Regions from separate parts of the Homo sapiens genome. Here region 2 is linked to region 1. The links come from fine-mapping of genetic effects on gene expression. Tissue or cell type: whole blood. Region 1 holds a variant in brackets; the other region holds the start of a gene. All regions are shown on one strand. Distances are between the middles of the regions.

Region 1 (2,500 bases):
TTAGCATGGAATGAAAGAAGCTGAATGATTCCTGTGCCTCTAAGAATGGAATGAAAGTAGTTGAGAGACTTTCTAGACCTGAAAGGAAAGGTAATTAGGAGGACGGAGAAAAAGGGATAGGTCAGCAGAAACATGCTTGGGTGAAATACTCAGTACTGGCTGGCCCTATCACATGTCCCCTTGCTCAACATATACACACAGACATTATACCCTCCCCTCTACCCTTGCATATAAGGCCTTTGGTACTAGGTAAGCTTAATAGAACTTTGATTCTAGCTGGGAGAGAGGAGAAGAAAACAACTTGAAATGGGCTCAGATTATGTTTCTAAGACCTCACAGTTCCCACATATAGAGAAAGGGGTCTCAAAATAGAAATTAAATTGTGATAAAGACTATAAAGTTATAACTCTTGTCCCACCTGAGCTGTAGTCTGAGATATATTCTTGCTATATAGTTAAAGCAGAGGGTTTATGGCCACATAAGTTTAGGAAATGCTGAGCTAAACAAATTGAACAGATTTCTTAATTACACACTGTAGGACATGCCAGAACTTTTAACATGCAAATGGATGCTTCCCAAACTCATGTGATCACAGAATTCTTTATTCCAGGAACATCTACAATTTGGGAAATGTTGATTTAGTTTTTAAATTCTGGTCTTATTTAGATGATGTGCATAAGCTGATCACACAAATCACTTACAGAATGGTTTTGATTACAAGATTTTTAATGCAACCAGTATCTCCTCCTTACCCTGACCCTTATCTTCCCTCTCTTCTACTTCAACAGGCACATCTCAAACAAAAAATGTTTCCCTCATATTTTAGATCTATCTAAGGTGTTCTTTTGGCTTACATAAATACAATGAAATTATAAATCTTAAATATTCCTGGAAAACCCTAATCTAAATTCTGGCTAGAAAAATATGGTATCAACTGTGGAAAAACTTGAGCTGGAGATAAAATATGCCATTCATTACACTGCATATGCATGTTGCCATCTTCTGAATCAGATTAATACAGATTTTAGACAGGAAATCATACTTTCTGTCAGGTATTTCTCTCCTTGGTGATTTTTACTATTCAAATGGAATTCTCCCAAGAATACAAGCAACCATCCTCACTTGCATTAAAGAAAGATGTGAGGTGCTGAGGGCAAGGATGGGAAAATGCATCTATTTATATCCAATGTCTAGCCTTGTACCCAGCACATGGTAGTTGCTAAACAGATGTTTGTTAAATAAAATGTAGGGTTTTAAATTATAGATGGTTCAGAAACTATTGTCTAACATGTATAGGGAGTATAGTACATAAAGCAAAGCAATATAAGTACATCAGAGATTATGCTCACCTAGATAAGTGGATTTAATAGCCTTGTATGACAGAGCAGCTGTCATTTTCCAGTTGCTAAAAAAAGGTTGCCTGTAGTGAACTGGGGGGTTTAGGCACTTGATGTAAATCTGTCTTGGCAATGATATGTTCTCCTATTATAGTAAGTAATA[T/C]GCACATGCCTTTCTTTAAACACACACACAGACACACACACACAATTAAAGATATCTAGTTTCTTGATTGCAAATAAATGCTGCTTGTTTCATTTTTTTTTCTTTCATTCCTAATTTACAGATGCTTCCATACTCACAAATAGTACTTGTTGCTGCTAGGAACTGTCATTGGCACTTTGTCCACAGACTGCTAGTTGCTAGCTAAATTCTCTCTGGGTGATAGGCTCCTGCTTCATTAATTTTATGCATCCTGGTTGAAACAGGGGTGATAGCTGCCAAGATGACAGGAAAAGACGGGCAGAAACAGCCCTCTTCAGGGTTAGCCTCAGTGATGATGAGTGAAAGTAGGTCACTTCCTTTGCACCCCTCCCTCCCAGGAAGGGTGGCAGCAGGGACTATTTCCAGTGCTGAAACCAGAGGGAGGTTTTTGTTTTTGGCAATGATGTCAAGGGGGAAGTTTGTATCACTTTTATGCTGAGGCTGAATATATAGAAGAATTATTTCTTCAAAAACATTTCAGAAGGAAATATAATCACACAAATTACATAAAATAATACTCTTGTTTCTGCTGCAAAGCAACCCAGTAAAATCAACAGGAATTAAAATACTGGTTTAGGAGCAATTAGAAGAGGATATAAATCATGATAATAAATTACATTTTGTTTCTATTTTCAAGTATATTTAAAGTAAATTATGAACCACTTGCTGAACTATGAACTATGCATTTAAGCTACATTTTAAGGACAAAAAGCTAATTATGAAAAATAAATGGTGCCTACACAGACAGTAAGATAAATCTTAAAGTGCATGACTTTCCACTTGAGCAATGCTTTCTACAAAGATTGTAGGTTAATACTTAACCTTTAAGATTAAAACATTAATCAGATATTCTCTGAGTGAATGAAGATTTATGAAGCAATTTCTGAAAAATAAATAAATTACAAAAATATAATGCATTTGTTTGACAAGTGCGTTGAGAAACTTTATTTCACCTCATTGA
Region 2 (2,630 bases), 400 kb after region 1:
AAGTATGTCTTACAATGCTGCACATGTGCTTCCTGTAAAATTCATGATAATAAAATAACTCTTCAAAGACTCCCCAAAGTTTCAGAAATGAGAGCTATATATACATAAACACTAAGAGGCTCTGAGGAGAATAAGTTATTTAAGTTACATTAAATACAGCCATCTTCCAAAGTCCTCCAAAGTGTATATCTAGTCACTGTGGCCTTAAAGTACACATGACATAGAAGTCTCCTCTGTATTTAAGCAAAAGGAGAAATTTCACGATTTCACTACAATAAAATAGGATATGAAGATAAGATGTGGGTTTGAAAAAGGTGAGGCTGGAGGCGCCATTGCCATGAAAGAAAAAAAACCACATAACTTCTTTAGAAATCCTGTTTTAAAAGTTGAAAACAAAGTTCTGTAAAACTTTATATATATATATATGTGTGTGTGTGTGTGTGTGTGTGTGTGTGTGTGTATATATATATATATAATTTTTTTTTGATGCATCAGCTACCCTCCATAAAGTCCCAGGATGAACCACACAGCTTGGGAAGCCTTTCTCTGCAGGATGGGCTCTGATTTGAAGAAATTCTTTTTTTTCCAATTGGAAAAAGTTTTCCTCTTGGAAAGATTTCAGAAATCAATTTACGGGATGTATCGTGATAGCAAGACCTCTTCGAAACTAAAGAACAATGAAAAGCACTCCCCGTTCCTTTTGCAGGACTTAGGTAATTCCCCCTACACTACGCTCTCATGGCATTGAACTTGAACTTGCTTCAAGTTCCTCTTGCCCCAGAGCGCACTCTCTGAAGGCGAAGCAAGACGGCAGTCCACAGACAGCAACTCTCGGAAGAGTGGAAGAAGTGAGGAATCTCGGTCCCGGCAAAGGATGCAACCCAAGCCCATGCCTCGACTGTACCTCTTTGCTGATGTGCCTGTGACTGCCGCTGCTGCTGCGGCCGCTGCGCCTGTACGCCCCCGAGGCCTCCGGAGAGCAGCAGAAGGAGGAGGACCCCGGCGGCTCCCGGCATCGTAGTGGCCGCGACCGGATCCACTTCTCGGGAGCCAGAGGAGTCGCTGCCGCCCTGTCCCCTGGCCTTGGCTTGTGAGCTGAGCGAGCAGCAGCTGCTGGGGAAGAGGAGGAGACAGCCCCCTCTGGCTTTGGCCGGGCCGCCGCCTGAGGGTGGGGGAGAAAGAGGACACTCCTCCACTCTCGCCTTCCATGGGCACGCGGCCCCAGGACGGCCCTCTATTAAAGGATCCTCCTTTCCTAGAGCGCTCCTTCCCTCTGAGACCGGATCATTCCTAGCTTGACCTGGTATCTGAACTTCTTTTAAATTAAAGAAAGTAATTGACATGAAAGCACTTTGAAATCTGTAAAATCCCTACACATGGAAAACATTATTTCTGGGAAATGCAAACAGCTAGGAACTTTTACCTCTTGAGAAAGGCCTGGCAAAACTGTGTGCAGCCACTGTGTACCTAGAAGATCCAAGACATCCCCAAGGCCAGAGTGTCTGAGAAGTTACTAGCCGAGGGAAGGTGCCCTCTGGGGACACTGCAGGCTGGGGAACTTACTGCTAGGTAGGCTGCTGGGAGGGCAGTAAAGGAAGTGCAAAATAAAACAGCCACCCTGGCGTCCCTGAAATGTTCCTGACCAAACTAATGGTTAGAATGAAGGCTTTCAGTTCAGTTAGGAGACATTTACTTAAAGGTAATAAAGGCCTTTGCAATAGTTTCCTTCCAGACTCACAATTTCATCTCTTCCAGTCCTGGTTTCTCCTCTTTCTCCTCTTTAACTCAACAGAACTACTGCCATTCCTAGTTTTTGTTGTTTTTTCATTTGTTTTTTATGGCCTAGGTCAGTGGTTCTCATAAGGTTTAAAACAACTCCATAATGGATTTTGTGAGTCGCAGGATGTCTTTTGGTTTACTCCGGGAACGGTGGGTACTGCAGGCATTAGTGTACTGTTGGGTCAGGGTGTGAGCTGTCCCTCAGTGGTCAGGACAGTCCTACAACATATTTTGTCCTTAGACTTCTGAATGGGCCACTGGTCATTTATGTAGTGAGTAAACAAACAAACAAAACAACAAAACCTTGCCTTATATTTGAAACCTAATTTAAGTTTGTTTCCACATCAAATTTTTGTGTGTGTTTTTTGTTTGTTTGTTTGTTTTTTTCTAGGATGCATCTACTATATACATTGAGAAGATAATTTACTTTGTGTTTTTGGATTTTACACCCATTTGTCAATGGGTGTAAAGATGTACTTTCAGAGAAGCACATCACTGATAACAACCTTGCCCATGGTACTTGAGTCACCAGCACAATATCAACATCCCATCGATTACACTGGGGTCATCTAAGAATAGGTGCAAACTTTTATTTTATTTTGCCTCCTAAGGAAGTTTTACCCAAGCATTTATATGTTGAAATACATATTGTCTTATATAGATAGTTTTCTTTTTTATAGTTAAGATGTATTGATTTATCTAAATATTATATTAAAGTTGAATTTTCTTTCAGTAAAATTAAGAGAGTATTGCTTTGAAGAGAATTGATTGAAAATCACTAGCCAAAGCCCATTCTTTAATATTATTCATGTCTTTTAGTTCTGTTAATATTATACCAGAAAGCTTTGTAA

Evidence for each region. PIP is the estimated chance that this variant, and not a neighbour inherited with it, causes the effect.
Region 2: LAMA2 starts here. The variant in region 1 is fine-mapped to the expression of LAMA2 in whole blood (TOPMed, PIP above 0.99). The same link has a PIP of 0.9 or more in blood mononuclear cells.

Annotation. Positions count from the first base shown.
Region 1 is chr6:129,280,254-129,282,753 of GRCh38, reverse strand. The region is part of intron 18 of LAMA2 (laminin subunit alpha 2); the gene reads right to left. Among named protein-coding and RNA genes, the nearest start is that of LAMA2, 400 kb to the right of the region's middle. The variant T/C (reference allele first, on the strand shown) is at 1,501.
Region 2 is chr6:128,881,632-128,884,261 of GRCh38, reverse strand. It overlaps LAMA2 (laminin subunit alpha 2), which reads right to left and starts at 1,124. Exons shown (of 65, transcript NM_000426.4): 1 at 905-1,124. The coding sequence starts at 1,016.